Homo sapiens: one gene and its partners. The main gene of each other region encodes a partner of the protein of the gene in region 2 in a complex. Links are inferred from orthologs where the notes say so. Each region holds a gene or a part of one and is shown on either strand. Other genes may lie near its edges.

What was found.
Region 1: the proteins of CTNNB1 (region 2) and NR5A2 are in contact, whole or in part, in a crystal structure (PDB 3TX7), measured with the Homo sapiens proteins. Residues at the interface, in NP_001091679.1 of Homo sapiens: Tyr306, Gly307, Asn308, Gln309, Lys312, Lys345, Val346, Val349, Gln379, Trp383, Arg386, Asn387, Asn415, Thr418, Cys419, Gln559, Glu562, Gly563; in NP_995582.1 of Homo sapiens: Ser300, Ile301, Pro302, Glu475, Gln476, Ala479, Leu482, Asp483, Tyr484, Met486, Cys487, Asn488, Tyr489, Pro490, Gln491, Gln492, Thr493, Leu501, Arg507.
Region 3: the proteins of CTNNB1 (region 2) and BTRC are in contact, whole or in part, in a crystal structure (PDB 1P22), measured with the Homo sapiens proteins. Residues at the interface, in NP_001091679.1 of Homo sapiens: Tyr30, Leu31, Asp32, Ser33, Gly34, Ile35, His36, Ser37, Gly38, Ala39, Thr40; in NP_378663.1 of Homo sapiens: Tyr307, Arg321, Ser345, Leu347, Ser361, Ala385, Leu387, Lys401, Arg403, Arg426, Ala427, Ala428, Asn430, Gly444, Arg467, Gly468, Ala470, Ser484, Leu508, Arg510, Tyr524, Arg557, Phe559.
Region 4: the proteins of CTNNB1 (region 2) and LEF1 are in contact, whole or in part, in a crystal structure (PDB 3OUX), measured with the Mus musculus proteins. The link is inferred for Homo sapiens from one-to-one orthologs. Residues at the interface, in NP_001159374.1 of Mus musculus: Lys180, His219, Ser250, Phe253, Tyr254, Thr257, His260, Asn261, Leu264, Asn290, Lys292, Phe293, Ala295, Ile296, Asp299, Lys335, Trp338, Thr339, Val349, Gln375, Arg376, Gln379, Trp383, Arg386, Asn387, Ser389, Asp390, Thr393, Asp413, Ile414; in NP_034833.2 of Mus musculus: Gly11, Asp12, Pro13, Glu14, Leu15, Cys16, Ala17, Thr18, Asp19, Glu20, Met21, Ile22, Pro23, Phe24, Lys25, Asp26, Gln31, Lys32, Glu33, Lys34, Ile35, Phe36, Ala37, Ile39, Glu45, Asp47, Leu48, Asp50, Ile51, Lys52.

The regions. Positions count from the first base shown.
Region 1 is NC_000001.11:200,030,605-200,038,282, reverse strand, and holds part of NR5A2 (nuclear receptor subfamily 5 group A member 2), read right to left. Parts: intron 3,254-7,678; exon of another isoform or gene 3,021-3,253; coding exon of another isoform or gene 2,981-3,020; intron 1,259-2,980; exon of another isoform or gene 1-1,258. UniProt on the Homo sapiens protein: Orphan nuclear receptor that binds DNA as a monomer to the 5'-TCAAGGCCA-3' sequence and controls expression of target genes: regulates key biological processes, such as early embryonic development, cholesterol and bile acid synthesis pathways, as well as liver and pancreas morphogenesis.
Region 2 is NC_000003.12:41,229,827-41,237,504, reverse strand, and holds part of CTNNB1 (catenin beta-1), read right to left. Parts: intron 4,165-7,678; coding exon 4,061-4,164; intron 3,977-4,060; coding exon 3,638-3,976; intron 3,367-3,637; coding exon 3,208-3,366; intron 1,782-3,207; coding exon 1,662-1,781; intron 1,157-1,661; coding exon 1,006-1,156; intron 918-1,005; coding exon 796-917; intron 1-795. UniProt on the Homo sapiens protein: Key downstream component of the canonical Wnt signaling pathway.
Region 3 is NC_000010.11:101,348,791-101,357,265, reverse strand, and holds the start of BTRC (F-box/WD repeat-containing protein 1A), read right to left. Parts: upstream 3,102-8,475; 5' UTR 3,086-3,101; coding exon 3,038-3,085; coding exon of another isoform or gene 2,657-3,037; intron 1-2,656. UniProt on the Homo sapiens protein: Substrate recognition component of a SCF (SKP1-CUL1-F-box protein) E3 ubiquitin-protein ligase complex which mediates the ubiquitination and subsequent proteasomal degradation of target proteins. Recognizes and binds to phosphorylated target proteins.
Region 4 is NC_000004.12:108,158,841-108,166,518, forward strand, and holds part of LEF1 (lymphoid enhancer-binding factor 1), read right to left. Parts: intron 7,462-7,678; exon of another isoform or gene 7,441-7,461; coding exon of another isoform or gene 7,432-7,440; intron 6,324-7,431; coding exon 6,257-6,323; intron 4,862-6,256; coding exon 4,728-4,861; intron 1-4,727. UniProt on the Homo sapiens protein: Transcription factor that binds DNA in a sequence-specific manner. Participates in the Wnt signaling pathway. Activates transcription of target genes in the presence of CTNNB1 and EP300.

The DNA of each region.
Region 1 (7,678 bases), on a different chromosome or scaffold from region 2:
TCCACACGGAATACAAGGATCAGTCCAGGCTGTACTTTTTCATTCTGTTGTCTGATGGGACCATCCACTTGAGGCCGAGGCCCAGCATTTAAAAAATGTTTTAAAGAACCATCTGTTACGCAAGCTCTTCGACCACCAGCCCAGCCGCATCTTCAAAGTTTTCAGATCTCCTCCCAACAAGATGAAAAACATTCTTTCCAGCCTCCTGACTGCATGCGAAATGCCTCATATTTAGAATCTGCTGTGCAACGAAGTAATTATCAGAGTCCACCCACAAGGGGGTGAATTTGAATCTCAAAAGATCTAAGTTTATTCTATTTGAATGGTATAGAGATTACACATTGAAACTGCCCAATCCGGTATTTGGTGACTTGGAAATTATTCCAATCTTTGCAGTGCATAATGTACATAAAATGGGTTGTTCATCACCCACCCACACCTGGCAATTCAGGTACTACTGACTCTTAATTGATTTGTCATTTTGCTCTTCAATATATATTCAGGATCAAAGTTATTTAGACTTCAGCTTTAGTAGCAACTTCAGGTTTCGTGGAAACATTTAAACTTATGAAGGCCTGTCCATTAGTTTGTATGGAGAAGTGGGCTGAAGTTGCCAAAAGCTCCAATTTTTGTGATAGTATCAAGTATCACTGTCACTACATTTCAGTATTCCTAGTTGTTTTAAGTATCACTGAGAACTAAGAAAATAAAGAAAGGGAGTCAGTTTCAGGGCTCACTGCAGTGGTTGCCCTGCTTTGCTCGTGAACTTTGAAAATCAGTTTATTTCAAAGCCTTAATTAAGAAGAACCTCCTCCCACAGCAATGCGAAGAATTTATGGGTGCACTTATGATACAGCACCTTTCCCAGACCCTAGCATGGCAAGGATGCAGGACTCCAAACGCTTGGTCCTAAGAGGAAACCTCCAACCCCTAGTGTGTGGTGGTGATTTCACCTCTGCTTGGTGAAGCCGGGGGAAGTTAGGAGAGTTGAAAGAAGTTGAAAGAGGGTCTGACAGGACCTTGAAATTGTAGTGTATCAAGAAACCCTGCCTTGGCTTGAGGCTGAACCTGAGGCTGAGGCTGACCTAGTGAGACAAGCTTTGTGACCATGCTCATAACGCCAGCTGCCAGGGCCAGAAGGGACTTGCTTAGGCCACACTAGCGACTTCTTGGTCCATGCCAGTCTACCCTCCCACCACATCCCCGAAAGATGGAGAGTGGTGGTGGCAAAAGGCCAGCTGGCACTCATTTATCTCTCCACAGGTGGACTTTCCAGGAAAGAAAAATCCTCACAAAATGGGAGGGGTGCGGGAGGGAACGGTGGCTGGGGACTGGGTTTTAAAAATCCATGCTTTAAAAAATTAACGCAGGAGCTTGTATCACGGAGGGAAGCCCTTTCCTTTGCTTTGAAAGTCTAGTCCAGGCCAAAACCTAAGCGTAGCAGCGAAATGGAGGGGGACTGAAAGAGCAGAAAGTCTCGAGCGAGAGAAAACGACCTTTCCTAAGAACCAAGGGAACTCCTAGCTCAGAAGCCTAAGCCCTCGGCGCTCCAGGCCTTTAACTCGACGATGGGAAACGCTCCCTGGGGGCAGCCCTATTTCAGATCCCCTGGAAGGATGTCAAGATCCCCGCCAGCAGTGGACAAGGCAAGGAATCTTCCACTGGAATTGATTCTTGCCAGAGACCCGAGGGCACACAAACCTTCCTCAGGTAGCTCTGCAAGGGATTTAAGGAAGCAGCTGGGTCTCCATCCAAGAGGCAGAGGCAGGGGCGGCGGCACCAGGCTTCCAGCGTCAAGCTCATTACTGCCCTCCAAGTGCACCCTTTCTTCTCCCTCAGAACTCCCTCCTCCCTCTGAGCACTCACTCTGGTCCTTTGACCCTTCAATTCTGCTGGGCAAGGGACCCCTGTTGAAGCCGGGGACCCGCTAGCTCAGTGACCTTGGACGGGTCTGGGCGTCCCCCAGAAAGCCCTCTCCGAAAGGAAGCTGTGGGAGGAGGAACCCGAGTTTGCGGTGTCTAAGATGGGTTATTTGAGAATGGTTCTGGGTTCCCGAGGCCACAATATGAAGACAGCCAAGTGGCTGCGGGAAGGGAAAGCAGTTGAGATGTAAGTAGGTGGAACCGGGTCTGTGTGGTCTAAACGCCGGCGCCAGCGGTGGTCTGCACTGACCCATAAATACACCTACCGCGGGTGGACAGACGCATCTCATCCTCCGCCGGGGACATCTTAGCAACTGCCACTGTACCTCTTAGTGTAAGCACACTTAGGAACCCACCCCGTACTTACCGCTGCGGGAATTGTAACTGGTGGCGGAGACCAGAGACTAGAACCCGGGAGGCCTGGGAGTCTGTGGTGAGACCGGGGGACAGCTCTGCTCAACTACCTTGCGCGTTCTCAATTTCTTTGCACTCCCTCTGCCAACTTCTGGCAAACTTCTCTCCTTTTCCCCCACCTCCCCTCCACCTCCTTCTTTCCGACGAGACAGGTCTCCAGGGCTCGCCCTTCCCGGTTCTGACTTTGTCTTAAAGTGTTGATTGACGGTTGCAATTACGAAGGATGATGGCTCGGGGAGGCTCCCGCAGCCTTGATGAGCCGGAGAAGCGCAGTCCTAGCATATTTTATCCACGCTCGGCGTTACGGGGCCGTGCGCGCCCCATTCACCCAGCTGGCTGGAGCTGAGGAGGCCTCGCACTCCCCACTCGCGAGGATGCAACTGCCTGCCTTCCTCCCCACCCCCTCCTTCCCGTGGTTCAGCACCGCATTTCGGAGCGTGAGCTGGGAGCAATCAACTCGACCTGACCTGGAAAGTGTTGGTCAGCCCCCGCGCGCTTGACCCGTGCGGGCTGCAGCGGGAAAAAATATCAGGATTTTCAGGAGCGGTTCAAGTTTCCTGGGCTCGCAAAAGGTGTGGCAGACACATCTTTCCCCGCGCGCCTGGGTAGATGACCCACCCAAACTTGCACAAAACTTGCAATACCTTCCTCCTTCGAAACAATTTCTCCCGTCTTCTCTTCCATTCCCACTTTTTGGTGCTTTTTAAGAAACCAGGACAATTACTTTTTTCGTCCCACATATCTACCTTTTAGACCCCGAAAGAAGTCTAGATTTTTTTCAGATCTCCATTACTAGGCCAGGATAGCCCGAGGGGGAAGAGGAGCAAGTTTTTCAGCCTACGGGAGCTCCGGGTCTGCCTAATTTTTCCGCCCCTCCCAGCCGAAAAACCCATCAGAAGCTGCTTTTGCCTTTCTCTGAAAAGTTTAGCCAGAACTCCAGTTTCATTCCCTGGCTCAGAGGGCTGGGCTACCCGCCCACGCCCGTAGGCTCCACCCGCCCTCATCCCGAGCGCTTTGTATTAGAAACAGACGGGTTAAATTTCAGTACAGCCATAGGAATTACCAGGGAGCGTCGTGTTGATCGAAGCTTTAAAAAAGCAAACCTGAATAGGTGAGCAGTCGTGCCTTGTTTAAAAAAAAAAAAAAAAAAAAAAAAAAAAAAAGCCTTTCTGCTGCACGTGTGAATAACTACTTAAGACATCAACATCAGCCCCTAGAGCAGGATGGCGATTGATTCACAATCACTATGAGAGTATCTCGATCTGGCGTGGCGCGGTTTTTATCGCGGAGGAAAACGAAAGCCGAAGCAATTATCTGGGTAATCCAACCTACCCCCCACCCACCCCCCCGGGCAACCTCCCACCCTTGCCCCAGAGGAAAGGAGGGCTTTTTGGAGAGTTTGGCCTGGATATCGGAATCTACGGCTCTTTGTATAAAAAGAGTTCACTGAAGAACCTTTTCACTTATTTTCTTTACAGCACGTTGTCCCAACCCAGGGGTCCTGGAGTGCCCCGCCAGGGTATAGTCGGTGCCCTTAGAAGAATGTAACAGGGAGATCCGGTCTTAAGAAAGGAGTGGGGCAGGGGAAATAATCTCGGGTAGGTGGTCTAATCTATCTCTTCCTCTCTGTAATTGAAATGGAAATTTGAGCCAGTTCCAGTTCAAAACTATTGGGACTCCATCCATTGGAATCAATTCTGTCCAGCCTCGGGGCCAACAGAACGACGATCCCGGCGCTAGTAGGCCACAAAGCACCTTGTGAAACTAGCTGAACACTTGCAGTTGCATCCTTTACACCCTCTCCTCCGCTTCAACCTGGGTCAGGAACAAAATCCTTAGCACGAGATTATTCTAGGCTGCCATTTAAATGTATCCGGCGATACTGGAAACTTCTTGATGGAAGGGGAAACATCCTGCATTGCTTCAGAATTCCTCGGCTTTTGCAGCGAGGGGATGGATCCAACCAAACTTCTTCCTTCAGAAAAGCCCCTGCCTGAGCTTCTGATTCTTAAGGTCAAAGAGTGCCGGGACCGCAGAGGTGCGGAGTCCAGCAATTTGGGTCTCACTTGGTCAGCAAAGAAAGTGGGAGCTTGGAAAGGCAAGACTTAACAGTGGTACCGTCACACTCAAGCATGGGGCGTGGAACTAGGGAAAGTGTTATGGTCTGGGCAGTTACAGAGGTTGCACAATTAGAAGGGCGTGGGCTTTTCCAACATGGTGATAACTTTCGCGATTACGAGATGGTGTACAGTGTGTGCCAAGGCTTGAGAGAGATTCACTTGTTTTCTCCAGAGTTTCTTGTCTGGAAACTGGGAAGTTGATTCCAGGACCCAGCAGTGGATTCCGACCAATTTTCTTTCCATTCCTGTAGAGGCCGCTGGAGCAGGTGGAGCTTGCAGAAGGCCGGGAAGCAGAGGCTGCAGGCATCCAAACCCTGAGCAAGGAATCCAGCACTTACCGTGAAAAATGCTAGCATGGGTGTGGGACTAGCATATCTCACTGCAAGAGGCACAGCTGGGTTTGTCAAAAGTGCTTTTTTTTTTAATTGACACCTAAATTGTCTTTCCCTATCCCCTCCTCTCATGGTACAACAGTATGTTTGTTTATGCTATCTAATTCAGTCACTCAGTTTGAGTGATTTCCCTGCCCTCCTCATACTCACTGACTCTATAACAAGTACATGCTCTGAATTTCCTCTCAGTTCCTTCTCACCATCTGTTGGTAACCCTGCGAGTTGTTACCATACACCACAAATTCACAAGCTAAACTTCATCCAAACTCCAGAGATCCTTTCCAGGAAACTCCAGAGTAGGGGACCAGAAGTGCCTTTGTCCCACCCCACTCAGACCTCAGTCCTCCCAGATGTGATTTCCACTCTGCTTTCCATACACCACTCCCTGTGCCACCCTTCTGAATTCTAGAAGGATCCAAATATGGTTTCTACCGTGGAATGGAAATGAAGATTAAAAAGCCACTTACAAATATGTTTCTTAAGCTCGAAATGTCCATTGGAGGAAAGTCTGCATAGACCAACATTGTATTAAATCATAATTCCTTTATATCAACAAGAACAAGTGGTTACCACTTTGGAGAAAGAGTATGTATTTCAGAATATTTCTTGGGTTCTATTTACAGTTCATTCTCTTGACAAGCTGAGTAAATTGCTTGACCTCTGATTCCATTTTTTAATCAGTAAAATTGGGTTAACAAAGTAAACTTTATAGTTAAATGAGACAGTGCCAGGAAAGAAATATATTACGCTGGATATATATATATATATCAGTTCCCCTTTGTCTTTCCCCTTAGCTTCACTCAAACTCATCATTCTGTAAGGAAAGTAAAAAGGGAATCACTAACCATTCTAGGATCACCTTCCAGTGGGATGTGCTTGCTAACTTGATTGTCTTGCAGGGCTTGACAAAGTCCTTGGGGACAATTACATTATCACCAGATAAAACTGCTCATATAAGTGCTCATGGTCATCTGCATTCAGGTTATTTGGTGTTTAAAAGTTACACTCCAAATATCTTTTCTTACTTATCAACCACACAAAAACATACATAACAGCTTCCCAAAAGACTAAAGAAGAGACAACCTTTATCAGCTTGCCTGGTCAGTTCCAGTTCACATGGTTTTCTCAAGCTTGATCTCTCAAGATCATATTGGTCACATTTCAACACTTCCCCAGGGCCTCCCCAGAGCACAATGCCCTCCTGAAGTTCCTTGAAGCCAACTGGATTTTTCCAAGAAGTCTGTTCCAATAAGGTGAAGCGTGAGGAAGTGCAACTCAAAGAACTAGTTCTATCCTAAGGTAGACTCTAGAGCTGCGGAGTGAAGTTGTCTTGCCTGCCTAGTGCATCCCTGGGGGTGGGGATTGGGTTGGGCCTGTAGGTGGAAGTCTGACAATGTGCCCTTCTCTAGCTCAACTTATGCTCAAGGCTGAATCCAAGATAATCCTAGACATTGTGTCTGGTAGAGGGGTCAAGTAAAGGAGAGAAGCATTAACAAGCCTCTGTTCTCCCTTCCTCTATAAATCTCTCTTGGTTTGTTAGAAGAGGTGTTAAAGATGCCAGGTGTGGTGGCTCACATTTGTAATCCCAGCACTTTGGGAGGCTGAGGTGGGTGGATCACCTGAGGTCAGGATTTCGGGACCAGCCTGGCTAACATGGTGAAACCCCATTTCTACTAAAAATACAAAAAATTAGCCAGGCGTGGTGGCGTGCACCTGTAATCCCAGCTGCCTGGGAGGCTGAAGCAGGAGAATCTCTTGAACCCAGAAGGCTGAGGCTGCAGTGAGCCAAGATCATGCCATTGCACTCCAGCTTGGGCAACAAGAGTGAAACTCTGCCTCAAAAAAAAAAAAAAAAAAAAAAAAGGTGTTAAAGAAAAAGAAATCCTTTTTTTGTTTTGTTTTGTTTTGTTTTGTTTTTTTGAGATAGGGTCTCACTTTGTTGCCCAGGCTGGAGTTCAATGGCACAATCACAGCATCCTCAACCTCCCTGGCTCAAGTGATCTTCCTACCTCAACCCCCAAGCCCTAGTCACTAGGACTACAGGCACATGCCACCACACCCACACCCAGCTAATTATTTATTTTTTTATTTTTTGTAGAGACTGGGTCTCACTATGTTGCCTAGGCTGGTCTGGATCTCCTGGGCCCAAGTGATCCTCCATCCTCAGTCTCCCAAAGTATTGGGATTACCAGTTTGAGACACTGTGCCTGGCCCAAGAACTCTGTTAACTCTGGTCACTACCTGTGGATCCAGGCCAGAAAAGAGGAATCTGAGAAGCACTGTTTTGGAGATGGACTCGGGCATGGAAAGAAGGGAGGCTCTAGAGTTTAGCTTCATAGAAGAAACTGGCAGCCTAAGCCCCAACTATGAGAATCAGAACATGGGCTTGTGTGGCTGGCATTCTAAATAAAGCTCGCTGGAGGTTAGGGTGACATAATGGCTATCACACTTTCCGCTGATGAAACGTCTACTTTCAGAGATCCTTATGAGCACAGAGCTTGCTGGAGGTTATCACTGAAATAAAATCAGACTCAGAGTGTTCAGGGGACCAGATAGCAAGACTCACATTACAGACTCAATACAGTGTTTGCACTGTGTATCATGTACCCCTAAGTATGCAGACATAACCTTCTGTGGATAATATGCAATATTATACTGAGTGCATAAAATATTCTGCAAATGCAGTTAATTTGAAGAATTATGGAAATTTAATATGAATCAAAGCATAATATTGGGCACTGTGGGAGTGGTCAATAAATATTTGTTTTATGTATAACATTTCCTACCACACAGATATGGCTCTTTTCTTGATATAGGTAAGTATAAAAAG
Region 2 (7,678 bases):
AAAAACCCAAGTAACACACTACTCACTGGTAATTTGCTTTTTTTTTTTTTTTTTTTTTGTGTTGGAGTCTGGCTCTGTCACTGAGTGCAGTCTGTTAACTCCTGGGTTCAAGCAATCCTCCTGCCCCCGTCTCCCCAGTAGCTAGGACTATAGGCATCCATCTCCATGCCCAGCTAAAGATGGGGTTTCACTATGTTGCCCAGGCTGATCTTAAACTCCGGTCTCAAGAGCTGCATCGTTGTAAACCTAACAATCTCTCTTTCCATTCACTCAACAAACATAATCCACTGTATGTCTGTGTACCATCAATGATCTCTATAGAATGGATAAAATATCAGGATGTTCTAGTTTTATTAGAAACAATGTTTCAAGGAACCACCTGTACTGAGGACAAATGCTGAAGAAAAATTCATAGCAGAAATTCAAATAGAAAAGTTTTATTAAAGTTTAGTAAAAAATACTGATAAACTGTCCTCTTAACAGTGTTTAACACTGCCTCTTTCCTTACATCCTTTTGAAAAATCTTCTTTAATCTGGTAACATTTTTCATCTTTCTCCCTTATGAATTATAATTTTAAATAACACAACTTATTTGTAATGATTCTGAACAGACTCTTTAAAGCTTGTATTATAGTTCTTCCTCAGAGCAGTTGCTAGACAGCATAAAGAAGAAATACTCAAGCCAGGGAAACATCAATGCAAATGAATGTGTACTAAGTGTTTTGAGAGGAAAGAACAAGCTGCCATACCTGCTCTAGGAAACTACCAGATAAATAACTGCTCACATTTCCCTACCTCATTCCAAGCCATTGGCTCTGTTCTGAAGAGAGAGCTGGTCAGCTCAACTGAAAGCCGTTTCTTGTAATCTTGTGGCTTGTCCTCAGACATTCGGAACAAAACAGCAGCTGCATATGTCGCTAAGAGACAAGGAGAAAAAGGCCCTTGAGGAAAAACTGAGACTTCAATGTACACATCTGCTAAAGGCTTTGGTTCCTTTTTACTTACCCACACCTTCATTCCTAGAGTGAAGTAACTCTGTCAGAGGAGCTGTGGCTCCCTCAGCTTCAATAGCTTCTGCAGCTTCCTTGTCCTGAGCAAGTTCACAGAGGACCCCTGCAGCTACTCTTTGGATGTTTTCAATGGGAGAATAAAGCAGCTAAGGAGAAAACACAAACAAAACCTAATTAAATCTAAAGCTAAAACATGGCAAGCCCCCCACTGTGGTGCAAACATTCCCAATTCAGAGTGCAAGAGGCATTCACACTGTAGTAAATAATATTCTCTGAATTTTATGTCTTGGGGTGTTTAATGCTCTGGAGCACTGGATTTCCATAATATTTTTTAGCTATAAACCCTTTCTTCAGAGGCAGCTCTAACTGATCTAAGATTTGGAAAACCCAGAATTGGTTGGGGGTCTATGCCCTGCCTCTGGCAGCCCAGGTCAGCTCTCCCCTCTAGGCACCCATAAAAGTGAAATGTGAAATCTCCTCCCTCTTCTCAAGTCTCAATGTTTCTCTTACTGACCAAAAAATGTAGGGAATTTTCATAAAATTAAATGTTGGTAACCCTATTATGGTCCCTAATTTTCTGAAATGTTATTAGTCATTACAATCTGGAAATTTTATGGACATAAAACCTAGAACACTTCACTTAAAACATACCTGCACAAACAATGGAATGGTATTTAGTCCTCTGATAACAATTCGGTTGTGAACATCCCGAGCTAGGATGTGAAGGGCTCCGGTACAACCTTCAACTATTTCTTCCATGCGGACCCCCTCCTGCCAAAAGAAACATGGTTAACAAACAGGGCATTCTCCTCTGTAAAGTTTGAGGAACAATTATTAGACTGTAATTATTTACATTATATACCCGAAGTTCCCCGTAACTTGCAATTAGTTCAGGAAGGAAGAAGGATTCCATTAACTTGAATGTCACTGAAAAGAGGCCTCCTGGCAGCACTAATTCAAAGCAGCACCCCTCCCCCATACACAGTGCAACAGAGCTTCCATACAGCGCTGAATCCCAAAGACAACTTTCCTACAGTAAGGGCACCAATCATTCTGGGTAAAAGGTATATAAAAAGAGAAGATGAGAAAGTAATGCTCAGACTATGTCAACGTTTTTCTTTTACATGCCCCCTCTATTTTTGTATATCTTCCATGTATTTGGTGAAAACTTTGCCAAGTTTTAGCACCAACTGCTAAAACTAACCGAGTTGCCAGCAGAAAAATTCACTCCTCACTCTTCCAAGACTATTCAGCTGACAGCCTCATGTATAGAAGGAAGATAGCTTTTGCAATATGTAAGTACCATCTGTTTCTCCTGTTTCTGGATTTGAGTTTTAAAAGGGGTTATTATTCTGCTACATTTAGCAGCTTTTATAAATAACTTGATTCTTACAAGGACACAAAAACTCTCTTCTTCCTAGAAAAGAGATTTAAAATAAAAGGTGCCCTCAACGTTCTATTAAGTCACCTCATGGAGATGGGCCAATACCAACAGTAATAAATGAAGAAAGCCAAAGCCCCAATATGAGTACATACACAAAGCAACCAGCAAAATGAGATTCCTAACATCTGTTCTGGTAGGCTCCATCTTTGTTTTCTAAACTAACCTAATAAGGTCTTAAAGTCTGAGAAATCAGAAATGTCATTAGACTATACTTTTAATGAAGCTACTTTTAAGACACAAACTTTGTATCAAAGCTTCAGGTTGAGATTTTTGTGGTTAAGAGTACAGAAATGCTACTACTTATTTCTGAATATTCTTAGGTCCATGAAAAAAGTTTAACTCACAGAAAAGATAATAAAACGGACTGCTAAATATTTATAGTCAAAATGCATGATGAGGCAAGGGTAAGAGGCTCTGAAATTACACAGATTTGATCTCAAATTATGACTCTACCTCTTCCTAAGGAAGTGGGCCTTTGTGTAAATTAAATGAGAACACTTTATGAAACACCTAACCCAACCTTTGTAAGACTGACCATGTGAAGGACGTGTCCAAGGAAATATCACTGGGGCCACACTATGCCTTATTTTCTCTGCAGCCATAGAAATGTGTAATTATTTATTTATTTACTTTGTCATTAGCTCTTCAGGAAGACGGATGGGGGGAACCAATGACCAAAGAAAGAAGTTCAGGATCCTTTGGATTTATGCATTCCTTTTAGATAGCCAGGTATCACTGTAAGAATTTACCTACCACAAATTGCTGCTGTGTCCCACCCATGGACGTACGGCGCTGGGTATCCTGATGTGCACGAACAAGCAACTGAACTAGTCGTGGAATGGCACCCTGCTCACGCAAAGGTGCATGATTTGCGGGACAAAGGGCAAGATTTCGAATCAATCCAACAGTAGCCTGAAAAACAGAAGGAAGAACTGGCATACAACTCAACAAAATCATTTTCTTACCCTAAAATTCCCACCACACTAAATCTATTGGTATCAACTAAAAGTAGTTCTGACTACACAAACATTTCAGAATCTTACCCCTATCGCAGCCATACTTCCTACTTACTAAGGAATACAATTCCTACTTATTGATCACTATGCTTAGACAGCCATCCAACAGCTAGAGATGCTTCATTTTCAATTCTGCAACAAAGGTAAATTCTACTTTGACAATTTACCTTTATCAGAGGCCAGTGGGATGGTGGGTGTAAGAGCTTAACCACAACTGGTAGTCCATAGTGAAGGCGAACTGCATTCTGGGCCATCTCTGCTTCTTGGTGTCGGCTGGTCAGATGACGAAGAGCACAGATGGCAGGCTCAGTGATGTCTTCCCTGTCACCAGCCCGAAGGACAGTACGCACAAGAGCCTCTATACCACCCACTTGGCAGACCATCATCTTGTTCTTATAATTATTGCAAGTGAGGTTAGAAAGAATTCCAGCTGCACAGGTGACCACATTTATATCATCTGAACCCAGAAGCTGAACAAGAGTCCCAAGGAGACCTTCCATCCCTTCCTATGGAGATAAAAACAGATGGTCAGTACAAGCACATACTCATCTTGACTCTATTCCCATGGCACCAGTTTACTCAGAATTTACCTGTTTAGTTGCAGCATCTGAAAGATTCCTGAGAGTCCAAAGACAGTTCTGAACAAGACGTTGACTTGGATCTGTCAGGTGAAGTCCTAAAGCTTGCATTCCACCTAGAAAATTAAAAAGGATATAAGGCCCTAGTCATTAGCTAGAAGTGCCTATCAATCCTAAATATCTGTTCTAGCCTTAGGAGGTGTCCTTCTGTATTTCCAGAGTTTACTTCCTTTCACCTAAGTATTTGATTTCCTCTCATTTTCTAGAATGTTGCTCAGTTTCCTTCACTTTGCCAGTTCACCTCACTAGTGACAAACTCTCAAATAGCTACTGTTCCTTTCCTAAGCCGAAAAAGCCTTTGTTATCTCCACTGTCCCCCTTAGGTAATATTCTTATTACTCATTTCTTTTCATCCATTCAATCATTTCAAAAATATTTATTCAGTACCAGGTCCTGTTCTGAGCTGCAGATAGACCAGTGAACAAAAATATTCAGAAGTTCCTACCCTCAGAATTTATGATCTAGTTGGAAGAGGCAGAAAAATATACAATAAACTAAAACCATACAGTATGTCAGATGATATTAAAGGGCTATGGAGAAAAATAATGGAGTGGGGCTGCGATTTTAAATAGATAATTAGGTCACCTCACTGTGAAGGTGACATCTGACTAAAGACCTAAAGAAGCTAGGTAAATTCCTGGGGTAAGAACAATCCAGAAAGACGGCATGAAAACACTTACTGTCAGGGACTTTATACAATTCACTGACTACAAAACATGTGTTCCAAGGTTTACAATCTTCCATCCTTTAGGACCCTTAAATGGGGGACATTTACTCTGGCAAAGGAGTATAAATGGAAGCCCAATGCCCACATAGTAGATTAACTTCGCTCATCCATCTTCAACTTAAATCACTTCTGAATGCAGTAAGAGATACTTTTCCTTGTCTCCTTCATCTTTCGGGTCTGTTTTATTTCCTCAGATGAGGTCTATCTGCTGTAATTCTTATGGTACCCTGCACTTCTCCTTCATAGTGTAAGTTACTCCACTTTCCCTACAAGACAAAGATCACCTCTGTTGGGTTCCTTTTTCATAGTAGCTCCAGCTACTAATAGAATGATCTGCGTAAGACTGATGATCAGGATGCTCAGTATTTGTGAAATGACTACCTTCTTTCCCCTCTTTAAGACTTCATTCCCTCCCTTTACATAACTATTAACTCTAAGAGAATGGATTTTAACCCCAGATGTCCATCAGAATGGCCTACAGAGACTTTAAAACACACACATTCTGATTCAGCAGTTCTAGGGTAAAAAAAAAAGTCCCATACAGATGACTCTGTGGCACCTCTACCTCCCCTTCCCTGCTGCCCTTACCCCTATATACTAAGAGGGAAACTTCCAAATCTCTAGCCTGCCTCTCTTGCATTCTAGTATCATACATTTCCAGCTACCTACTGACCTTTTAAGTCACTTTAAGTCAGCTTCTTAAATTATTATGTTCAAAAATTAAGGATGCCTTCTGAGGGTTCCATTTATCTTCATGGTACCAATGTTGTCCCCTCCACAAACCGTTTTTGGTTGCTCCCTTAGCTCCTATATTATTACATTCTATGATTCTTTCAGGCATCTCAGACATCTGCCCTTTGCTATTGAGTTCTAAAAGCAAACTATTTCATTCCTAAAAGCCTGTAACATCTCAGTAGTCTGGTCTTCTAGCTTTTGGTCATTCAAACTGTTAATCTATACAATGCTATTATTAATATTTTAAACACACCACTGTGATGCTTTGCTATTGATAAACAACCATCGAAAGTGTCTCAGCATCCTTTTAAGATAATAGAAATACTTTAGTATAACCCTGAGGAACCGTTTAGAATTTGGATCCCACCTAGCCTTCCAAACTGACCAAAGTATTCTGTATCTATGGCTCCAAAGCTGGAATAAAGCATGAATAAACTCCATGAGTAGTAACTATCTTATAGGAACCTAGAAAGTCCTGCATGTTATGGCTCTGCTTACCTAACCTCAACCTCATACCAGGCCATCCACCTCATTACTAAGTTCTGTTTATGCAGACCTTCTCTTCAGCACCTGGATCTCCACAATCTCTTTCCCTTTTTTTTTTTTTTGAGATAGAGTCTCACTCTGTCGCCCAGGCTGAAGTGCAGTGGCGCTATCTCAGCTCACTGCAAGCTCCGCCTCCCGGGTTCACACCATTCTCCTGCCTCAGCCTCCCAAGTAGCTGGGACTACAGGCGCCTGCCACCACGCCCGGCTAACTTTTTGTATTTTTAGTAGAGATGGGGTTTCACTGTGTTAGCCAGGCTGGTCTCGATCTCCTGACCTCATGATCCGCCCACCTCAGCCTCCCAAAGTGCTGGAATTACAGGCGTGAGCCACCGTGCCTGACCAATCTCTTTCCTTCTAAGGCAAGCTTGTCCAACCTGCAGCCCATGGGCCACATGGCCTAGGACAGCTCTGAATGTAGCCCAACACAAATTCGTAAACTTTCTTAAACATTATGAGATTCTTTTGCAATTTTTTTTTGTTTTAGCTCATCAGCTATCATTAGTGTATTTGGTGTGTAGCCCAAGACAATTATTCTTCTTCCAATGTGGCCCAGGGAAGCCAAAAGACTGGATATCCCTGGTTCTAAGACATAGCACATGGTGTTCCTTTTCTCTACCTGGAAAACGTTTAACCCTCACTTCTCATATAGACAAGAGACGGTTCCCTCTCATCCTGCAGTCCCACTTAACATCCCCTTTTCAAGGAGACCTTTTCCCTCTCATCTAGACAATTCCCCTCCCCATTAATTCTCATCACTATTTGCTGTCATTTCTCCCATAACACTCATTCTAATTTAGGATCACATATTTTTAAGTATTTTTGTCACCTTCACAAGACTAAGAATTAAGCACGGGGACCCTATCTGTTGTGTTACCCAATGTATACTATGTGCCTATTCCATTTCTTAAAATACATTAGATGCTATTTTCAGAATAAACAAATGAACATAAGAATAACCTGGAAGAACTTAAAGATTCCTAAGCTTCCAGTCCCATACATGTCCAGCTATCTACAGACCTCCCTGTCACTTCAAATAAAACACTATGAGATCTTGATATAAAAATTAACACTCCAGGGATTCTGATTAAATAAATCTCAAAATCTGTATTTTTAGCCTACATTACAGGTTACTGCTGGAACAGCTGACAGAATTTACATCCCATCCCCTCATTCTATATGAACTCAGCCACATTTGTCTATCCCCAAGACTATGGTTCCTCTGCCAGTAGTTACCTGGAGCAATCATAATGTCTTTCTCTCTCATAAATTCCCAAGTAAAATTACTCTCAATAAGTGAGAAAAGTAAGTGTTGCCAGCCCTATACTTTATTCCCAACATTTTCTTCCATTAAATGCCTTTATATTTTTCCTTCTTTCAATACTGATTTGAAGCTTGCTTTGAAATTCTGAGTAAATGTTGTTAGGTGGGTTACTGAAAGGAGAAAAAATGCTTGGTAGCTAAAAAGTAACTGTTTTCATGACACACACACACACACACACACACACACACAGAACCCAAGAGGCCCTAGTACAAACCATCTATTCTTTTCCCCAATTGCCA
Region 3 (8,475 bases), on a different chromosome or scaffold from region 2:
TTTCACCATGTTGGCCAGGATGGTCTCAATCTCCTGACCTCGTGTTCCGCCCGCCTCAGCCTCCCAAAGTGCTGGGATTACAGGCATGAGCCACCACGCCTGGCCAATATCTTCCTTTTTTGTTTGTTTGTTTTTTTGAGACGGAGTCTTGCTCTGTCGCCCAGGCTGGAGTGCAGTGGCGCGATCTTGGCTCACTGCAAGCTCCACCTCCCGGGTTCACGCCATTCTCCTGCCTCAGCCTCCCGAGTAGCTGGGACTACAGGCGCACGCTGCCACACCCGCCTAATTTTTTGTATTTTTAGAGAGACGGAGTTTCACCATGTTAGCCAGGATGGTCTCGATCTCCTGACCTCGTGATCCGCCTGCCTCGGCCTCCCAAAGTCCTGGATTACAGGCATGAGCCACCGCACCCGGCCTATCTTCCTTTCTTAAAACTGACTCTGAATAAACAGACATGTTATAGCAGGGTAAATGGCACCAAAGGGAAGTTGTGACTTACTCAGATTCATAAGACTGTTACTGCACTGAAAGAGAATACCCAATCTCAAACTCTCCATTCTCTGTTTCTTTTATTAAGGTGTCATTCTGGTGACCCTCTTCTAGTTGACCTTTTCTCAAATGGCAGCCAAAACAGCAGGCAAGGTCAATAATGAAAGTAACTAAAATTAAAAGAAAAAATTGGCTTCTCCCTATGAAAACTGATTCAAGATTTAATAATGTGTGGTGCTCTAAAAGCTGCAACTACTATATGGTCATCTCCAAGTCCACTTTAACTCAACCAGGGAGGCCATTATCAAAACATAACTCACTGGTACAAAGCAGAGATTAAGTAGCTGAGAATGTTACTAGGCTGAAGTCTAACTGAGAGTAAAAAGGATGATCTCATAATGTCTCTTTATGATCTGTAAATCACATTATTCCATAAATCTGACACAAATGTCAGGATTAGGATTAAGAGTCAACCCTCTGCTGGGCGCTGTGGCTCACACCTGAAATCCCAGCACTTTGGGAGGCCAAGGTGGGCGGATCACGAGGTCAGGAGATGAGACCATCCTGGCCAACATAGTGAAACCCCGACTCTACTAAAAATAAAAAATTAGATGGGCGTGGTGGCCCACACCTGTAGTTCTAGCTACTCGGGAGGCTGAGGCAGGAGAATCGCTTGAACCCAGGAGGCGGAGGCTGCACCACTGCACTCCAGCCTGGGCGACAAAGCAAGACTCCATCTCAAAAGAAGAAAAAAAGGAGTCAACCCTCTAAGTAGGAAAACAAAAATAAGCAGTAACAGTTTTCTAACTTAAGTGTAGTAACTTTCACTTACTTCTAAAGTCCAGTAAAAGTTCAAGGTCTCTTCTTCATATTTAGAATTTTAATGTTGGGCAGAAATCCAAGAACCTTCTTCAGGCTCAATGAAATTTTGTTAATGATACCCCTGAATTTTAATTAGGTGTTTTCGAAAACACTAATGCAAGATAAAGTTTTAGTGAATTTGACTAGATTCCAAAAAAGTATTCTTATAAATGGGGCAGTTTAAAGTCTAAAATTCAATTTTGTTAGTATCCATGTTTATCTGGATTTGTTACGGTATTTTAGGCAAAGATACAAAATAGCTATTTTTTTAAGCAAAGGAGTAAGATTTGGAGTGACAAGTCACAATAACTTCTGAAAAAGCAAGACTGGACTGCAAATAATATCAATGTCCCTAAGGCCACCTGTTAAGCTTAAAATCTATGCATTCCATCATTCTTTAGTTGTAACCACAAAGTCTGGTTTTACACCTAGGAAATACAAAAAGCATCAGATTAAAAGCATCAAATATCAGACTATACGAGTTTGCCAAAGATAAGCACAGCAAAAAGAAAAGCGTGATACAAAGTTAAAGAAATATGTTCCAAGGGGTTTAAGCACACCCACAAAATCCAATCTTTGCTCACACTGTGCTTCAACCTAAAACTGACGGGTAACCACAAATCCTGACTTATCCCTGACTTACTTCCCTCTACCAACCTCCACCCTTTTTATCTCCTAAATTTCTCAACTGATCTCATCACTTCTTATGGGTCTTTGCAACTCTCATCTCCACGGCCTTTCCTTTCCCAGAAAATGATACAAAGCACCTGGCCTCCACATTTTACCGTCCCACAATTTACCTTTAAATTTTGTTTTGCTTACCCTATTAGATACTCATTTTGCCCCAATCTCCTGTACCCATGTTTCCCTGACAATCTGCTCTTACTTTTCATCACCTTGTCCTTATTACAGTATTTAGCTTCTCCTTTCAAAGTAGCGTTATGTACCCCTCCCTGACATTTGTAATTCTAGCTTACAGTCAACACCCTTTTCCCCTCCCAGGGACTGTCATTATAGCCCTAGGTCCTCATTCCCAGTCCTTATCTTCTTTAGTGAGGCCTCTTCCCTTCCAGAGTTTGTCAACAGTAGTTTGGCCAAGCTGGGATTCCACCCTCAAGGCAAAGGCTATCCTCCCTCCTCATTCTACAAAACTATAAGCCTCTCACCAGCCCTAGCGTTCCCTCCTCCACCCTTAAATCCATCTGCATCCAGCCCTGCCCGTTCCCCTCTACCCACCGTATCTGTCTTCACTCTATCCCGCGCTCCCTTCCCCAGTCGTGAATGCACCTCCTCTCCCGGGCCTTACCGGTAACCCTGACACCAGGAAGGCCCCGCCAGCGGCCTCACGGCGTTTCTCCAGAGAGCTTCCTCCGCTTTTCAGTAACAGTCCCCACGCCCCTTTCCCTCCAGGGCCCCGCGCGCCGCCTGGAGCCCCCTCCTCGATTAAGCTCCCGCTGTCACTTGGCCTCTCATCCACAAGATGGCGGAGCCGCTGCCCCCACCCCTGGGTCCGCTCCGCAACCCCCAGCCTCCTTTCTGGAGCTCCCATCCCATCCCTCCAGCCGCTCCGCCGCCAGCCTCGGCCCAGGGTCCCGCTGCCCGGTCCCGCAGTGGGCGGGCGGCCCAGGCCAGCGACGCCGCCAACGCCAGCGCCTCCACCGTTCCCCGGCCTCCACCGTCTCCTCACCATAAACTTGAGTGCCTTCTCTTGCAGCACCGCCTCGGCCGGGTCCATAATCGCCGAGGCCACTGGGTCCGCTCTCCGCCGGGGCCGCCCCTTTGGTGCCAGGCCGCAGCCAACGCAGCGCCCGGATCCCGCCTCCTCTTCCTTCCCCCCGCCCTCTCTTACCTCTCAGGCGCAGGCTGAGGGGCCAAGGAGAATCGGCTTCTCCGTGCGCAGGCGAAAGCCCACTGGCTCACGGGATTTGTAGTTCTGGAACTTCCCCCAGGAAAAAAACTGAGGCTACGCCGTGAACCGCAACTCCCACAGTTCACTGCGGCAGCGTTGCGGTTGCCCACAAGCCAGATTTAGATAAGTTGCCATTACGCAGAGGAAATCGGCTGATGGGAATTGTAGTTTACAGCCTCTAAGGATGAGAAACGGGAGGGGCACGGGTGTCTCCGTGGTTACCGAGCGACGCCAGTAGCGGCTTGCCTGGCATTTGATATCAAGATGGCGGCCAATGCCTCACTTGTAGCCCAAATACTAAGAAAAACTGTGGCAAGAATCACGGGTCCTAGGACCTGCCTAACTGTGGTTTTAGGAAGCTGAACGTCCCCAAATTTCATGTATCTGGCATCTGCAGGTTTGCGACCCAGAGTAGCTGGGCCAATGGGCACCTGGCAGCAGCTCACAGACAAATGCGGAATTTCAAGGTCCTCCTAAGCCATCGCCACCCACACTTCTCCCGAGGAATCTTTTCTCCCCCACAGCAAGTCAGGGCCGAATAGAACTCGGTTCAAGAAATTCTCAGTGTTTAGAGCTCAAAAAGCACATAACTTGCTATTGCTAACTGTGGGATGTAAGCCCTGCACTAAGGGTCAAACAGGTACTTAACAAAAGTCCTTCAACGGTGGAATATAATGGCCTCCAGCAAATAAAGCATATAAATATTTTCTTTGGCCTGAAAAGGTACAATATGGGTTTATTTTGGAAATTGGGTCTACCTTAGGAGGAGAAAACTCTAGGGTTTGGTTAAAAGTGATTTAGGTTGTTTTAAGCTGCTATGTTTGTGATAATTGGTTATACAGCCTAAAAAACTGACACACACCCAAATGCCCCTCAGCAGGTGGTTGTATGAACAAATTGTAGCATATTCCATATGTAGCACAGTGGAATATTACTTAGCAATGAAAAAGAACAGTATAACAACAACAACAACAACAAAAGTGATTTAGGGCCAGGCGCGGTGACTGACGCTTGTAATCCCAGCACTGTGGGAGGCTAAGGCGGGTGGATCACCTGAGGTCAGGAGTTCGAGACGAGCCTGGCCAACATGGAGAAACCCCCGTCTCTACTAAAAATACAAAAATTAGTCGGGCCTGGTGGCACGCGCCTGTAATTCAAGCTACTCGGCAGGCTGAGGCATGAGAATTGCTTGAACCCGGGAGGCGGAAGTTGCAGTGAGCCGAGATCACGCTACTGCACTCCAGGCTGGGCAACAGAACGAGACTCTGTCTAAAAAAAAAAAAAAAAAAAAGTGAGTTAGATTGTGACAGCCTTGTACAAAATATCTGAATTTATAAAATAAATGAACTAGGAAAATACTTTTTGACTTATAGGAAAAAATCTCCATTTTAAACTATCTTATTCACTCAGTCATCCAACAAATGGTAAGCATATAACCGTGTGCAGACATCATCTCAAGAAATAGGGATTCATCACTACTTGGGTGGCTAAAATATCAGACTTCACCACTATAATTCATCTATATAACCAAAAACCACTTGTACCCCAAAAACTATTGAAATAAAAATAAAAGTAATTAATTAAACAAAAAGAAAAAGGAATGGGGATTCATTAATGAACAAGACAGACCCAGTTATTTCCTCGTGGAGCTTACACTTTTACTCTGTTGATACTTTGTCCTAGCCCCTATATCCACAAAACTCAGCATGATACTTAATACATAATAGGCTTTCAGTTAATAAAAAGTTTTGTTCTTGAATTTTTAAAAAAATTCTACACAAGTGCAAAATGGAGAAGACTTCAAACGCATTCGTATGAAAACTAGCTGGAGGTTTTCAGAGGACTAAGGCAGTAACAGGATGGAGTTACAAAAAAAATAAATAAATAAATAAATGAAAAGATAAGGTGGGATGATGGTGCAGCCACTGGAAAAGAGTATTCCAGGCAAAGGTAACTGCATTTTTGGTGATTGATTCTGAGAACCAAAACAAGATCAGTGGGACTTTAGAGGAAGAGTGGCCCTAGATGAGACTGCAGAAGAGTATGGGGCTCTATAGGCAAGCCATTATTTAGCCGGCATAAACTGGTCAGATAAATCAGCTGACATGCTTTCTAAACTGGCATCAGGGCCTGTACCTTACCAGATATAAAATACCTTGACTTTCACTCCAGCTTATAGGCCAAGTTCAGTCATTTAGACTGTATCCTGAGAGCTGTGAGAAACTAGCTGAACAATTTAAAAAATGGTCAGATTTGCATTTTCAGAAAATCACTCAGAGTCCAGGGTGGAGGAGAGATTAAAATGGAGCACAGCTGGAAGCTTGGGGAAAGGATTATGAGGTTGCTGAAATATTCCTGGGAGAGATGATGGCAGCCTGAATGTGGTGGTGAGAACAGAAAGAAGTAGATGGATTCCAGAGATACTAAGAAGATAGAATCAGTGGAGTATGGTGATTGATTAGATGTGTCATGGATGATGTCAAAAGGATGTGTCAAAGATGACTTCTATGTATCTGGCTCAGGTAATGAATGAGGGATGCCATATATATGTATTTTTTTCTTTTTTTTGACAGAAAGCACAGTAGAAGTGGTAGGAGGATAATCAGTTCTCTTTTTGGACATATTGCTTCAAGGTGCCTGTGAGATTTCTAAGTGGATTCAGATGTTGAGGAGGCCATTGGAGATTTGAAACTGAAGTTGGAGGGAAAGACCTGGGCTACAAATAGGGATTCCAGCATGTAGGTGGTAAATGAAACTCCACTCCCGCTTCTTCCCCCGAAAAGAATGAAATCATCCAGGGAGCTGGGCATGGTGACTCACACTGGAAATCCCAGCACTTTGGGAGGCTGAGGCAGGTGGATTACCTGAGGTCAGGAGTTCGAGACCAGCCTAGCCAACATGGTGAAACCCCATCTCTATGAAAAATACAAAATTAGCTGGGTGGGGTGGTGCTCACCTGTAGTCCTAGTTACTCAGGAGGCTGATGCAGGAGAATCGCTTGAACCCAGAAGGTGGAGGTTGCAGTGAGCCGAGATCACACCACTGCACTCCAGCCTGGGTGGCAGAGCAAGACTCTGTCTCAAAAAAATAAATAAATAAAATAAAGAAAGAAAAGAAATCACCCAGGGAAAGCATAAACAGTGGAAAGAGCAACAGGACTAGGACAGGGTCCTAAAGAACTGTAAGATTTATAGGACGAGCACAGGAAGAGGAGCCTACAAAGTAGCCCAAGAAGTGACCAGAGAGGTAGCAGGAAAGTCTGGTGAGTGAGGATCATGAAGGGGTTAGGGGGTGCAGATGCCACACTGCAGCCTGTTGAAGAGGGAGGTGAGGATATGAAGACTGCTGAGTCTCTTCTTTACAAAACGTGGCTATCTAGGGAAGGAGAGAAAAGCTAGCACAGTGGTGGGATGTAGAAGTTGAGAGTCTAAGGAAAGCATTGTTTTGTCTGAAAGAAGGAAGATTTTAGTTCAAAGGAAATTGAAGAAGCATGGCAACTAAATGCAATGAATGATCCCTGATTGGACACAGGAACAACACACATACACTGACACTGATACACAGCAGAGAAAACAGCTATAAAAGGCATTAATAGGGCCAGGTGCAGTGGCTTACACACAGGTGTGGGAAGCCAAGGCAGGAGGATCTCTTGAGCCCAGAAGTTCAAGACCAGGTTGGCAACCTGGCAAGACCTTGTCTCTCTCTCTCTTTTTTGAGACTGAGTCGCGCTCTGTTGCCCAGGCTGGAGTACAGTGGTGCGATCTCGGCTCACTGCAAGCTCTGCCTCCCAGGTTCACGCCATTCTCCTGCCTCAGCCTCCCAAGTAGCTGGGACTACAGGCACCTGCCACCTCGCCTGGCTAATTTTTTGTATATTTAGTAGAGACGGGGTTTCTCTGTGTTAGCCAGGATGATCTCTATCTCCTGACCTCATGATCCACCCGCCTCAGCCTCCCAAAGTGCTGGGATTACAGGCGTGAGCCACCGCGCCCAGCCTAATTTCTGTATTTTTAGTAGAGACAGGGTTTCACCATGATGGCGAGGCTGGTCTTGAACTCCTGACCTCAAGTGATCCACTCGCCTCGGCTTCCCAAAATGCTGGGATTACAGGCGTGAGCCACCATGCCCCATGCCCAGCTCTTAAAAAAATAAAATTAAATAAATAAAGACATTAGTGAAACAGTCAGGGAAAAACTGAATATGGGCTGTGTATTAGATAACAGTATTTTATCAATGTTAAGTTTTCTGAGTGTGATAACTGTGAGAATAAGAAAATCAGAGAATGTCTTAGATGATACATGCTGAAGTATTTAGGGTGAAATGTTATGATACCTGCAGCTAACTCTCAATTGGTTTAGGAAATAAGGAAGGTGTCTATGTGGAGTGAGAGAGAAAGAGGGAAGGAGGAAGGGAGGGAGAAAGACAACTAAAGCGAACGTGGCAAAATGTTAAGAATTGATGGATCTGACTGGGTGTGGTGGCTCACATTTATAATCCCAGTACTTTGGGAGGCCAAGGTGGGCAGATCACTTGAGGTCAAGAGTTCCAGACCAGCCTAGCCAACAAGGTGAAATGGTGTCTCTATTAAAAATACAAAAAATTAGCCAGGCATGGTGGTGTGTGCCTCTAATCCCAGCTACATGGAAGGCTGAGGCAGGAGAACCCCTTGAACCCGGGAGATGGAGGTTGCAGTGAGCCGAGATTGCACCACTGCACTCCAGCCTGGGTGACAAAGAGAGACTCTGTCTCAAAAAAAAAAAAAGGAAAATTGATGGATCTAAGTGAAGGGTTGTAGGAATTCGTTGTACTCTTCTTGCAACTTTTCTGAGGGTTTGAAATTTTCCAAAATTTAAACTTGGGGAATAAAATGAAGTGAGATACTTGAGCATATTTAAATGCTGATAGAAAGGATCCATTAGAGAAAGGCTAAGGATGAAAGAAAGAGGATAATGATGGCAACAGTTCCTGAGAAGACAGGACAGAAAGGGATCTAGGAACAGATGGAGGGATTAGCCTCCTCTGAGAGACAGGAGGAGGAGCGTATGAGGACAAATAAAGTTAAGTTTAGAATTGGCAGAGAAAGGTTAAGGTAGTCCCTTCTTCTTCTTCTTTTTTGAGATGGAGTCTTGCTCTGTTGCCCAGGCTGGAGTGGAGTGCAGTGGCACGATCTCTGCTCACTGCAACCTCTGCCTCCCTGGTTGGATTATCCTGCCTCAG
Region 4 (7,678 bases), on a different chromosome or scaffold from region 2:
AAGGGTCTCGGACCACAGGGAAGACTCGATCAAAATAATGAGGTTGATGAGAGCAAATCTAAGACCTGTATGGGAGTGGAAAAAATACTTCAAAAGCAAGATTTTTGCGGATTGGCTCAATGGTCTTTTTTTTAGTGTGTGGTCTTTTTTTTTTAAGACTATCTTTTGGGTTGTTCTCATGTCTTTATCAATGAAGAAGAAACTACTAGGGTCATTTCAAAAAAACTATCTGAGTAAGAACCAGGCATGTAAATGCAATATTAGCTCTGCAAGGGTTACATGTAGTATGGCTTCCTGGCACACTTAAATAAGCAAACTGGCCATAAGGTATTTGATGGGGGAATGGCAAGCGCTTCCAATTATTCTGACTATGATCCTGTCCCAAATTGTAGCAATGCCATGAAGGAGGGATCAAACAGGAAACTTTGGGGGCTCTGAGGAATTTTCCCACACATTCTCCTGACATCTATATATACATTTGAGTTAGAATAATACACTTTCTAAAACTTATTCTCCACTTGAAGGGGAAAACTCAATGTGTTTAGCTTCAAAAAGTGCACAACTTAAAATAGAAAAGTGAAAATTATTTATAGGTTAAGTCAAATTCAATAGCTTCTTGCAATAAAGTGAAAAGATACTCTACCTTAAAAATCTTGCATGAGATATAAGCCTTAGTCTCCATCTATCCTTGAATATTATTTATGTGATTATTTTCAAAGGTATCCAACAATGTCACGTACAGTGGTACATTCAGAAGCTTACTGATTAGACAAGTCCAACTTAGTTCCTTAATTCCAGATGTGAACAATGACAAAATCAGATTTTAGCTGTTTATAAGCAAGTACAAATATGCAGGGTAGGTAAGACAAAGTTATAATAGGTATAATTCTGTTTAATAGAAACCAAAGTGTTGATTCCCTTAAGGTAAAAGTCACAACAGAACTAAGTTATACAAGGTAATTAGAAAAGAACTCATGGAACATTTTCATAGCAATTTCTACTTTAAAAAAATAAACATTTTAAAAGATAGCTGAAATGAGAACACCCATATCTTTCCTTTCCCACCTAAAAATTGACTCTTAGAAAGATCACAAAGAACCAAAAACAATGAAGTTTGCAGCGCTACACTGACCAGGTGTTATTGTGGTTTGATGTGACTGAGCTGCAACGTTTGCTGCAGCTTCCTGCACTGTGTTGCTTTTCCCTCCCCAAGCATCTGAAGAGAAATGAGATGTTTCTTTTCTAAGGTGTTAAACATTTGGGTTGCATGCGGGACAAATGGAAGATTGACGCCTAAGATGAATAACCACAGTGCATTAGGCCAGTGGGAACTTTCACTACATTAAAGCTGGCCAAGCTCACCATTCACACGGTGTTCAGGCACACAACTGCCAGAGCCAAACTAGGGATGTAAAGAACTATTTTTTTCTTTTAATACTTTACCATTGGCCTACAGGGATTTTCATAAATAAAGTTCAGAGAACGAAAGGTTTGGGAGTATGCTTTTAATAAACTCTCCAGGGTCCTGGCTCTAAAATATTTAACAGGCTTCTGCATCTTCTCTTCACTCTCTGTGAAGAAGACCAACTCAAGCCAAAGTTTACTATGCCCTAAGAACTCACGCTGACACCAAATATGTCATGATAGGTGCTTTCTTCTTAGACCCAATTTATCTGAACTAAGAATTCTTATTTAAAATTCTGTGAGAGACCCATTCATAAGATTTCTGGTATAGACACATTCACACCCCTAAGGATTCCAGTTCTAGAAGGATGTAATTTGCCAATTAAAATTCCCCTTGAGAAGAAAAAAAGCTGAGTAGGTGAAAGTGGTGCTCCTGAACAGGTAATACTGTATATTGGTCATAGGTAAAATCTGTTCCAGGATACACACAGTAGCATTTGTCTAAAAAATAAGCAAAAGCATATGCACTTTTTATAATTAGATTCCAGCAGAAACATTTCTCTGCATGCCAGTTGGCCATAGCTGGTATCCTCTGGATTGTCTGCAGTTAGATACAAACAGAAGACTGTTTAGGGAAGGAGTGGTCAGGTCCCTCCCCCACCCCAGGTGTTTTTCCAGTCCTAACACTTTTGGGAAGCAGATGCAGTAAACAAGCAATTGTTTGTAATGGAAATTCAAGAAGCAGGATGCCAAGGGGATGCTCCCATCCTAAGCCCAAACACAAATGGTCACCATGCTCCTGACACCCTAGATGAAAATCTATCACTGTGGATGTTAGTGACACAAACACTCAGCCCTGCTAAGGACAGAGTTAAAGAGCAAGAAGGCAGAAGTGTGGTTAGGGGTGAAGAAGAGAGGCTGTCTTCCGGTTAGTGTTTTTGATCTCCGACACATTAAAAACAGCTGTTAGGTATTAAAAACCAAAGATTGTAACTCACTTCGGTTGGACCCTAAAAAAAAAATTTACATAGTCTTGTGGTTACAGCTGAAAAGCTTCTGGAATTGTGCAAACTGCAGAATATCTCAAGAAAACATGCCTAAAATAAATACATCCTAATATTTAACAGAATAAAGCAAAGCAACAGATAACAGGGTAAGGTAACTGTTTCCTGACCACACCTCTTTCCTACACTTTACCCAGACCAACATTTATTCTGGCCACAAATCTTTCCTAAACAATGAATGACTGTTTGATTCACTGACCTCAAAATTTTAATACATACACTAACAATAAATACCTTCTATCAAAAGATATTTTCTATCAAAATTTCAAAATGACTAGTATACTGGTAGATTGGGAGAAAAGACTGTGGAAACACAAGGCAGAATGCTGGCATAAAGAGGAAGATCAGCTTAATTTTCAATATTCTTAGGGATTGCTTATAAATACCAATAAATTTTCATTATATTGATTTTTTAAAATTACCATTTTGAAAGGAGAAGTAGCTGATCTTTTTAAGAAATAAATTCCACAAATGCTGTATACTCACAGCTGAAAAACGTAAGGCTGTTTTGTGGCTATTTTCTATTGTCACCAACACTACTTTGATTTGGAAAGATTATTTGTTATTCTGAAAATGATTTAACAGGAATCTTCAAATATTCCTTATCTAAAACATATTCTCCTTCCCTTCTCCACCCCCTCCAAAAACAGCAAAAAAACCTGCCCAAATATTAAAGAGATATCTATATATTTGTATGTTTTGTTCAAAAATTTAAAGTCTCCTACAACTTTTAAAACTCAAGCATTTATTTGAGGGGCCTCTAAATATTAAACTATTTTTGCTTTTTTAAATTACTTTTTAAGTAGGAGATTCATCCTCATCACACAGACATCTTTATCATTAAATACTTGAAAAGCCTTAAAATAAAATATGAAATACCTATTTCTTACAGCAACCATCACAAGATCTCCCTCAAGATTAGAACCCCAAGATCTCCACTTTAACTACTATATAAAAATTAGAAAAAGCTTATTCCTTAGCTGAGAGATCAAATATCCTTTAGCAATTTATTGGAAAATAATTACAATAACATCTAAATTGCAGTGCTCAAAGTGATCATATTTGATATAAGTATCATTTCAACAACTGAAGATTATGTGTAATGATAACCACAAATACTCTTGTTGATAACTGTTGATTTTGAGCCACTATTCTCTGCTAGTGAATCTTCTCACTCCCAGATTTTGTTCACTAAGGTATTAACAACGTTACTCTTCCCAGATGTTTGTGACTGATTTTTTTCAGTTGGTAGAAACACTGGGCAAGTAAGTCAAACACTATAGGTTCCATTTTACAATCTGAGATTTGACCTCCAGGGCTGTCAGTGAGACTGGAACCCTAATCCCCGAGACCCATAGACATGTGTTTTTCATTGGGGGTTAGGTGATAAAGGGAGAGTGGGGCTGGAGAGAAGGTAAATATATTGATGGGTCAGTAAAAAGTCCGTCACCAACGCTGGTGGGCTAATTCTAAGAGAGAACTCCATCACCAGCACATTTTACATCTACATACTACACAAGTTACCATTTAGGTATTTTCTCACTTAAATGAGGTTTCCACTTCCTAAGAGAAATATCATCAAATAAACCTGAAATTCTTTATAATGTTATGCATTTGCATAATGCAGTTATAATACCACTGCATTTTTAGAATTTTAAAAGTTAACTAAACCACAAGATTAAAAAAAAAAGGAACAACTTTCATTAGGGTTATCTTTGAGTGATGCTTTCTCAACAATTGACAATAAAGCAAAAATAACTCATCCCCGCCAAACCGATCCTAAGGAAACATTGGCCGATACAATAAAACAAGACACCATTTGAAAAGCCAAAGTAACATAACAAACATTCAGCTCCAAATGAGCTAAAGTAGCTCTGATTCTAGAAAGCTTGTGGGCATTAAAAGCTATACAGTCCTTACTTAGCTGAAAAAGTAAATCAATTTTTTCCTCTCATCAGCATAGAATGCACAATACTCATAAAATCAGGGATTTGTTGATGTAACTTCACTTGATTTTATAACTTATGATCTGTTACATATTTATTTTAATCAATAAGCCAAAAGCTAAAATTTCAAAGGCAAGACATCAAAGGTAGCACTGTTTTAAGGTGGCCATTCCTCATAACAGCTCTTATTTAGCAACGACTAGTTATATATAATGAAAGCATTACCAATGAGTTTGGAAAAATAAACATTCTGCCAAAATACAAATCAATTTGCACTTCTGAACATAATTTGCAACATCAGCATGTTACTTACTGTTCTCGGGATGGGTGGAGAAAGAGATCCATTTGACATGTATGGGTCGTTATTCATATTTGGCATCATTATGTACCCGGAATAACTCGAGTAGGAGGGTCCCTTGTTGTAGAGGCCTCCATCTGGATGCTTTCCTGGGAAGATCCAAAGAACAATCAATGATGCACTGACTTCCCTTTTATATTACTGTATTTTTCATCTGAAAATCTAATAGTTCTAAGATAAATCAGACCCTACATAAAAGATTTGTTTACAAAATACTGTAACTGGATTATTATGCTCTATTTTAGATTGACAGTATTTATTCTCTTAAATAGCTTAGCAGCAAACCAGATGTTTTAAAAACATGTAGTTCAAACAGTTCTTCCACTACTGACTGATGTTTTTACAAAAATAAGTGTTATCCATCTAACTTAATTTGTTCTAATACTAACAAACTGGACTAAAATATACAGAACACACACAACTTTAAAAATGTAATATAAATATATTAGGCCATCTAGCTACACACAAACACAGAGATTTATACACTTGAAATTATGTTTTGCCTTGTAGACAAACTCAAAGATTCTACCTGTGCTTGCAGATTTCTAGAAAAATTTCTAGATTCTACTGAAAGAGTTGTTATCTAGTATATAGGCAACTATCTAAATTTATAAAGGATTAACTCTGGGAGGCTTAATTTTATGTGCTACACTTAGATCATTTTGCCAAAAAATTTCTGTTCGATATGTGTATTTCTTCTTGTTAATCTGTGTAACTATCTTGTAGCTGAGGAAGAAGCCTAATATATAATTCTCTTCCCTGCTCCTGGTTGACATATTGTATGTAAAAACACTTCATTTCAGTTAGGCCAATTGTTAAGTAATTAATGGAAAACAGATAGGCTGACAAGAAATCCCTAAGGTTACTTGATTCTTTTAAAGTCACAAAGAATTCTCCTTAAGTCTAAATACATATGTATGTAATTTTAAAGTTTTTAGCAAGAATCAGAAATAGGGAGAAAGGGTATCATTTCTGATATGCACATTCCTAATTATAAGTTTTATATTTTTACAAGTTAGATTCTGCTCTGCTCATTTACTGCCGGCCTTTTCACTGTAATAAGGAACAAGAAACAGCAATTTTGCAAGTGAAAATCCACTCAAAACTATTCTGGTTGGAAAATAAATCGATATATACTGTCGTTCTTCTTAATAATATATTAAAAATACTAAAGATCTAAGCTAATTAGGATTTAAGGTAAGATGAGGAAGAGAAAAACTCATTGTAGACATTCCCTCTTCCCAAAGAATCTGGAACCCACCTGAAATCCAAGGGTCCCTAACTCATTCAAAAACAGTTTTTAAATTATGTAATATATATTAGAGGTAAGCCATAAGTTTCCTGCGTTTTCTTTACCATTAAAATAGTGGGCATAGTCTGACCTAGTCCCAGTTTCTTGAACTCAAAAGTAACAAAACACACCTATTTATACAAATTGCACCCCTTATCTGCTAAAGTCAGAAGAAGTAGAATGGGTGTCTTACCGTCATCGGGGTGTTCTCTGGCCTTGTCGTGGTAGGGCTCCTGAGAGGTTTGTGCTTGTCTGGCCACCTAACATCATGAATCCCCACACCCAAAAGAAAGAAAATCACCTTAGAGTTTGTGACAATAATGGTACAAATGTGTGTGCGCTGGTAATTCAAAGGAAGAGGTTTAGGGGCAACTCTGTTTTATACTCTGAGAGACATACGCTAGTGTTTAGTACTGCATAATCCTTTTCTTGTCAACATGTATTTTTGAGTGATTATTATCCACCCGGGACCAAAAACGTATAAATAATAACAAAACCAATAAAAATATAGTTAAATTTGGGAATGATCCACATGCTGTTCTGACTGCTGTTTATTAAACCATATCAAGGCTCCTTGGATGCCTAATATTACAGGAGTAGGAGTTAATGGGGTTGATGGTTTCGATAGCCTCTTCAACCACTGTTCACTTCAATCAGATCTGATTAAAAGAAGGCTGAAATATCATTTTGCAACTGAAAATGGCATTTAAACATAAACAAGCCAACCACTCAGATGCGGTCTTAAGGCAACTGCCCTGAGCGCAGTTACAGCAGAAGCTCCACTCGAGCTTATAACCTACTATGGCTGGCTGAGTGCAGGCTTACAAAAGTAGAACGATTCTGTGGTTAAAGGGAGGAAAATTAGAGAGTCAGGTTATAGACATCTAAAAGGTAGCCCAGTTGATATCAGTTTTGGTAATCACCATCCACCCAGACAGCCTCAAACACGTGCAAATCAGTGGTATTACTCCTTCACCCTCAGGCCTCCTCATGCCCACTTAACACCCGAGTGCTCTCGGATTCGAACGCAGTGTCCTTCACCCGGACCAGAAAATTGTGGAGAATATGAAGTGGGTGGCAAAATTATTTATGGACTAAGGCAGGACTAGCAAAATGGGTAGAAAGAGAGGCTGCTCTACAAATAGGAGAGTTTGGCAAAAAGCCTGTGTTTTGGATGTTATTCGGTTCTCTGGACGTGTGTCCTCCCTTTGACCTCCTTTTCCCAGCACACAGTAGTCACAAATCTTTTACGCGGGGTTAGGTGCACCCTACCCCCGCCCCCAGCCCGCTCAAACTGGATTCAACGGGTAAAGAACACCATTCTGTTCTCTGAACGCAGGCCCCCAGCCTTTCAAAATTCGTACTCACCTCTGCCATTGGGATAGAGAAGGCAGATCTGAGGTGTTCTTAAACGCGCTGTTTAAAACCCAAAATGTCCCCGCCCTCAAAACCACACACTTTCTTTTTGGGGGTAGAAAGATGCCATTTAAGGAAAAAAAGGTATATCCTCCAAGTTTCTTTGGAGGGAAAAGGCGTTGGTTAAATCATTCGGGTGTCAGGACTTTTCTACCGGATTTCCTCCAGAGGGTTTCCCAGTTGTGGAACAAGGGTGACC